2 linked regions of the Homo sapiens genome follow. The protein of the gene in region 1 interacts with the protein of each later gene in a pairwise test. Each region holds a gene or a part of one and is shown on either strand. Other genes may lie near its edges.

Region 1 (3,755 bases):
GCTTAATTCCAATTTACTTACTAGGTTCACAGCTATTCTGAATAGGTAAAGTTGTTAGAAGTTGAATGAAAGACTAAGTAAGTAAAATGTTACTATATACTTTATAATGAGAAACTACTAATATTACACTTAAATTAGCCAGTCTGAAAATTATAACTACAGTGGCCATCAATACTCTTTTAAATACCTGCACTGGCTGTCAGTGTTGTTTTCTGCTCAATTCTGAAACGAATTTCCTTTACCACTTCCTGGGCTGATGTTCCAAAAACAACTGAGTTTTGGAGTATTTGAGGATTGTTTTGTTCTTCAAAGTTCACTTGGAAAGGATCTCCTGGGGGCTGCACATCAGAAGGACTCTCTTCAAAAAGTAGTGGAGAGATGGATCGTTCATGCTCACTCAGTTTATTAACTTCCTTTCCTGGATTATCTAAGTCATAAACAGGAAAATAACTCACCTTTATTTTAAGAAGTATATACTTCATAAGTTAGGTTTCCCTACATTATTTCTGAAGACAAAAACAAAAATCTAGTTTAGTTTAGTTTCTAGGATCCAAGATCAGAAATGCCATCATTTATCATTTAATGTTTTATAACCATTAAAGAGAACACTGATTATGAATTTTTCTTAAAAAGACTATTATCCATTTCCACAGTATAAATATTAAAAGGAAATATCTTATGTAAAACTCACTAATGTTCGTACCTAAATTAATTGAAATTCAGAATTAGGTTTCAGTTCACATTACCTTTTTCTTAAAAAAAAAAAAAGGAAATCTTTTCTTTATTCTTCTTTAGGAAGAAAAAGAATCTTCGAAAATTAGAATTTAGAATATAATAAACAATATATAATAATTATACTGAAAATAAGTTTTGTTTTTAGAAGGAAAAACACTTAACTTTTCTTCATTTATGGAAGAAACCTTTTAGATGTTAAAATAATCTGAATTTTCTTCTTTCAAATGCTGATTTTAATTTTGATTTGCTTGTTTATAAAGTATCACTTTGACTAAGGGCACATTTGTAATAAATAGAAATTACCTGTGAAAGTTATGCTTCTTTGAATATACAAATTCTGAAGGTCTGATTGGATAATCCAAGTTTAAGAAAAAGAGACGTTATTATTAATAGGCTATAAACTATTATTACAAAGTAAAGTAAAAATACCAGTCTGGTTATTGCCTCTTTATATTTATATTTTTCATAAATGGACTGTAAAATATTCTTAAATCTATACTGATACTAAAAATGTCTCCATGAACAAATCTATTAAAGCCTGTTTTCTTGGCTTAATGTAGAAGAAATACAATTTAAATGTATTTATAACAACCAAGGTTAGCAACAAAGCTTTCTGATCCCATCTCGTAATTTTATTACATATAAATATTTTCCAAATTAAGGTCAATACAGAAGAAAAAATTAAATTTCTAGTTTTAAGATGCATACGAATGTATATTACTTGAAAAATGTATTTGGCTGTTTAGGAAAAAATTTTAAAGATAATATAAAATAAATATGACAGACATCTGATTAATTTAAAAATTTAAAATATGTAGTGTGAAGTAAGTCATAGATGTTAATTCAGTCAGATGTTTTCCAAATCTGAATTCCCAGGGCACATACACAATAAGCTTATTTTCTTTCTCTCTTTTTTTTTTTTTTTTTTTAAGACAGGGTCTCCCTCTTGCCCAGGCTGGAGTATAGCTAGGACTACAGGCGCGAGCCATCACGCTTAGCTAATTTTATAATTTTTTGGTAAATATAGGGTTTCACAATCTTGCCCAGGGTGGTCTCAAACTCCTGGCCTCAACTGATCCTCCCACCTCAGCCTCCTAAAGTGCTAGGATTATAAATGTGAACCACCTTGCCTCGCCAATAAGCCTTATTTTCAAACTTACATTAGCTGATATTTATGTGCTTCAGTTCCTGTCATTTTTTAATATGCTGGTTTTAAAATGTAGAACAATTCAGAGGGGAAACAGGCCAGGCAAGGTGGCTCACGTCTGTAATCCCAGCACTTTGGGAAGCTGAGGTGGGAGGATCACCTGAGGTCAGGAGTTCGAGACCAGCCTGGCTAACATGGTGAAACCCCATCTCTACTAAAAATACAAAAATGAGCCAGGAATGGTGGCGCACAGCTACTCCGGAGGCTGGGGCAGGAGAATTACTTCAACCCAGGAGGCAGAGGTTGCAGTGAGCTGAGATTGTGCCACTGTACTCCAGCCTTGGTGACAGAGTGAGACTCCATCTCAAAAAAATAAAAAAAAATAAAAAAAAAATAAAGACTGTGAAACAATTGAAATGGTATCTACCTGGAGCCCTTTTCCCCATCTGGATGGGTAGAAGTCACGGTAAAGAAAGCTACAGAAAAACTGCAAACCAAGTAAGTTATCTGCCACATTCATAAACCCGTTCTGCAGAGTTTTTTATGCCATGTTTTGTACCTCATGCCTCTACCACCCTGCCCTCAGGTGAGCCACTGTGAGAGCAGAACTATACAGCAGGAAGTGAAGAATGCTGCCTTCTCACACATTATCAGAGCTGCTGCAGAATGTTCAGGTACCTTTTCAATCTGAACTACTTTCTACTTTTTTGTGAGGCCTGGCTGTGTAACTAAGAGCTGAAGTAGTTTCTTATTTGCTTTGTGACAGAAACATCTTTATAATCCCCATAACTAAGGTAATCAGAATGTAACACTAGGATTAAAGCATTTCATTTGGAAGACAAGTGCTAAAAAGTGTATGGTATTTCAGTTTCTTATATTATCTGGCACTCACCATCCAGATTTACATGGGAGAGTAAACATTTAAAAAATTATTATTTTATTTGTATGTAGAGATGGTAGTTAGCAATATATTTCCAAAGACAAACACCTTTTAGAAAATGGGGAAACAGCAAAACAATGTCTTGGACTTTAGAGGAAGATATATCAATTGCCTTCCACAGTTCCAATGCACTATTGACAATTTCCCATGGCATGATGTGAGGTGAGACACGCCTGAAAGTCCAGCCCACAGGTATTTACACATGAGAAGAAAAGTTTAACTATTCCAATTGTTTAAGAATATGAAAATACACGAAGAGGGCAATATACAAGTAAATATGTTAAAAGCAATAGATATTAAAAATTCACATATTCATAGTGAGTTTGGACATTATAATAAATGAAAAGAACATTAGTAGGCTGGGCGTGGTGGCTCATGCCTGTAATCCCAGCACTTTGGAAGGCCGAGGCGGGCAGATCACCTGAGGTCAGGAGTTTGAGACCAGCCTGGCCAACATGGTGAAACCCCACCTCTACTAAAAATACAAAAAATTAGTCGGGTGTGGTGGCACGCGCCTCTAATCCCAGATACTTGGGAGTCTAAGGCAGGAGAACTGCTTGAACCCAGGAGGCGGAGGTTGCAGTGAGCTGAGACTGCACCACTGCACTCCAGCCTGGGCAACACAGTGAGACCCTATCTCAAAAAAAAGAAAAAAATTAGTAGAAAATGAAAACATTTACTTTAATCCCAATGTAAAGCTTTTAAAACACATCATGCAAGTAATTGTTATGGGAGGCCCTCAGGGGATGCTTTGACATAATTATTTAATGATTTTCCCCCATTCTCTTGTGAAAGTAAGGAATTAATAAAGTAAGATTTTATACAAAGTGACATCAGGCTTTATGTTCCACATCCTCAAACAATAAAGTTACACCAAATAAGGAAAACCTTTTGCTCTGTGCCTGTGTCGAGAAATGATGATTATTGTTTAAT
Region 2 (3,755 bases), on another chromosome or scaffold:
CATTTTCTTTTCTTTTCTTTTTTTTTTTTTTTTTTTTTTTTGAGATGGGGTCTCAATCTGTCACCCAGGCTGGAGCGCAGTGGTGTGATCTTGGCTTACTGCAACCTTCGCCTCCCAGGCTCGAGCAATCCTCCCACCTCAGCCTCCCGAGTAGCTGGGACCACAGGCGTGCACCACCATGCCCAGCTAAAATTCCCATAAGTTTTCAAATACCATGTACAACATATAATCAAGAGTAACCAGGCGCAGTGGAATACTACACAGCAAGAATAAATGAGTCTACAGCTAAGAACAATATTATGAATAAATCACAAAAACATAACACTGAGGAAGAGAAGCCAGATACAAAAAGTTATATTTTGTATGATTCTATTTACACAGTTTAAAAGTAGGCAGGCCAGGCCCAGTGGCTCACGTCTGTAATCCCAGCACTTTGGGAGGTCGAGGCGGGTGGATCATCAGGTCAGAAGTTTGAGACCAGCCTGACCAACATGGTGAAACCCCGTCTCTACTAAAAATAGAAAAATTAGCCGGGTGTGGTGGCGCACGCCTGTAATCCCAGCTACTTGGGAGACTAAGGCAGAAGAATCGTTTGAACCTGGGAGGTGGAGGTTGCAGTGAGCCGAGATCACGCCACTGCACTCCAGCGTGAGGGACATAGTGAGACTCTGTCTCAAAAAAAAAAAAAGTAGGCAAAATTCATCTATGCTCTCAAAGTCAAGACAGTAGCTATCTTAATATGGGGAGGTGGAGGGAGGTGTTGGTAGGGGTTGGAAGAGCATATAAGGAGGTTTCTAGAAGGTTTCTAGAGCTGATAATAGTCTGCATTTTTTTTTTTTTTTTTTTTTTGAGACAGAGTCTTGCTCTGTCAGCCAGGCTGGAGTTCAGTGGCACGATCTCGGCTCACTGCAACCTCCACCTCCCAGGTTCAAGCAATTCTCCTGCCTCAGCCTCCCGAGTAGCTGGGGTTACGGGTGCACGCCACCATGCCCAGCTCATTTTTATATTTTTTTAGTAGAGACAGGGTTTCACCATGTTGGCCAGGCTGCTCTCAAACTCCTGATCCACCCGCCTCGGACTCCCAAAATGCTGGGATTACAGGCATGAGCCACCATGCCCGGCCAATAGCCTGCGTTTTCCTGTTTTCTTTTTTTTTTTTGGTGGGGGGACTTTCGAGACAGGGTCTCACTCTGTCACCCAGGCTGGAATGCAGTAAAGCAATCATGGCTCACAGCTGACTCTACCTCCCAGGCTCAGGTGATGATCACCTCAGCATCCTGGGTAGCTGGGACCACAGGCACATGCCACTATGCTCGGCTAATTTTCTGTGTTTTTAGTAGAGATTTCATCATGTTGCTCAGGCTGTTCTAGAACTTCTGGGCTCAAGCAATCTGCCTACCTCAGCCTCCCAAAGTGCTGGGATCACAGGCGTGAATCAACACGCCCAGCCATACCCTGTTTCTTGATCTGAATTCTGGCTGCATAGATATGTTCAATTTGTAAACATTCTGTAAGCCATATACTTAGAATATGTGTACTTTTCTGAACTATATTATACTTCAATTTTAAAATGTTCTTTTTTTGAAATGGGGTCTCACTCTGTCATCCAGGCTGGAGTGCAGCAGCACAATCATGAGTCACTGCAGCCTCAACCTCCCAGGCTCAAGCGATCCTCCTGCCTCAGCCTTGCAAGTAGTTGGGACTGCAGGCACAGGCCATCATGCCCAGGTAATTTATATTTTTTTCACTTTTTTGTAGAGATGGGGTGTCACTGTGTTGCCCAGACTGGTCTTGGACCCCTGGGCTCAAGCAATCCAGCCACCTCCCAAAGTGCTGGGATTAAAGGGGTGAGCCATCATGCCTAGCCAAAAAAACACTTTTTTTTTTTTTTAAGACTGAGTCTCGCTCTGTCACCCAGGCGGGAGTGCAGTGGTGCAATCTCGGCTCACTGCAACCTCCACCTCCTGAGTTCAAGCGATTCTCCTGCCTCAGCCTTCCAAGTAGCTGGGACTAGAGGCGCCCGCCACCATGCCCGGCTAATTTTTTTGTATTTTTAGTAAAGACGGGGTTTCACCATGTTAGCCAGGATGGTCTCGATCTCCTGACCTCGTGATCCACCAGCCTCGGCCTCCCAAAGTGCTGGGATTACAGTTGTGAGCCACCGCGCCCAGCCAAAAAAACATTTTTTTAAGTAAACAGGTACACAAGAAAAAAAAGCACTATGAAAACAAACCAGAAGAAATGCCCACAAAGACTTTAGGTAGGCCAGGTGCAGTGGCTCACGCCTGTAATCCCAGCACTTTGGGAGGCCGAGGCGGGCAGATCACGAGGTCAGGAGTTCAAGACCAGCCTGGCCAACATGGTGAAACCCCGTCTCTACTAAAAATACAAAAATTAGCCAGGCACGGTGGCGAGCGCCTGTAATCCCAGCTACTCGGGAGGTTGACGCAGGAGAATTGCTTGAACCCAGGAGGTGGAGGTTGCAGTGAGCCGAGATCGGACCATTGCACTCCAGCCTGGGTGACAGAGCGAGACTCTACCTCAAAAATAAATAATAACACAGGATAAAAAAGTTAATGGAATAGAGGCAATATATGAAGAGATAATGGCTGATAATTTTCCAGAACTGATTAAAGAAATTGCTCCACACGGCCAGGCGCGGTGGCTCACGCCTGTAATCCCAGCACTTTGGGAGGCCGAGGCAGGCAGATCATGAGGTCAGGAGATCAAGACCATCCTGACTAACACAGTGAAACCCCATCTCTACTAAAAATACAAAAAATTAGCTGGGCATGGTGGCAGGCGCCTGTAGTCCCAGCTACTCGGGAGGCTGAGGCAGGAGAATGGCGTGAACCCGGGAGGCAGAGCTTGCAGTGAGCCAAGATCGTGCCACTGCACTCCAGCCTGGGTGACACAGCGAGACTCCGTCTCAAAAAAAAAAGAAAGAAAGAAAGAAATTGCTCTACACGTTAAAGAAATCTAATGAATCCCGAGCAGAATTTGTAAAAAGAAATTCGGCCAGGCACAATGGCTCATGGCTGTAATCCCGGCACTTTGGGAGACCAAGGTGGGAAGATCACCTGAGGTCAGGAGTTCGAGACCAGCCTGGCCAACATGGTGAAACCCTGTCTCTGCTACAAGTACAAAATTTAGCCGGGCATGATGACACGTGCCTTTAGTCCCAGCTACTCGGGAGGCTGAGGCAGGAGAATTGCTTGAACCAGGGAGGTGGAGGTTGCAGTGAGTTGAGATTGTCCCACTGTGCTCCAGCCTGGGCAACAGAGCAAGACTCTGTCTCAAAAAAAAAAAAAAGAAAAGAAAAAGGTAAAAAGAAATTCATATTGGATACACTATACCAAAACTGCAGAAAGCCAAAATCAGAGAAAATTCTAAAGGTAATGAGAGTCTGAGGATAAAGTTCCAAAGTATGCTTAAAGGAGTAACTGATAAACTAAAATCTGACTTCAATAGCTACAACGGAAGCTAGAAGTTGGATAAGGGCCGAGTGTGGTGGCTCACACCTGTATTCCCAGCACTTTGGAAGGCCAAGGCAGGAGGATTGCTTTAGGCCAGGAGTTTGAGACCAGCCTGGCTAACATAGCGAGACCTTGTCTCTAAAAACAATAATAAAATAAAATAAAATAAAACAGATGAAAAAAGATATACCATGCAGTCACCAAAAGACAGCTGAAGTGGCTATACTAATAGCAGATAAAATGGACTTTAAATTAGACAAGATAGGCCAGGCACGGTAG

What was found.
Region 2: the proteins of POLK (region 1) and TRAIP interact in a two-hybrid assay, tested with the Homo sapiens proteins (one study listed by BioGRID).

Annotation. Positions count from the first base shown.
Region 1 is NC_000005.10:75,577,881-75,581,635, reverse strand, and holds part of POLK (DNA polymerase kappa), read right to left. Parts: intron 1,081-3,755; coding exon of another isoform or gene 1,039-1,080; intron 428-1,038; coding exon 188-427; intron 1-187. UniProt on the Homo sapiens protein: DNA polymerase specifically involved in DNA repair. Plays an important role in translesion synthesis, where the normal high-fidelity DNA polymerases cannot proceed and DNA synthesis stalls.
Region 2 is NC_000003.12:49,849,824-49,853,578, forward strand, and holds part of TRAIP (E3 ubiquitin-protein ligase TRAIP), read right to left. Parts: intron 1-3,755. UniProt on the Homo sapiens protein: E3 ubiquitin ligase required to protect genome stability in response to replication stress.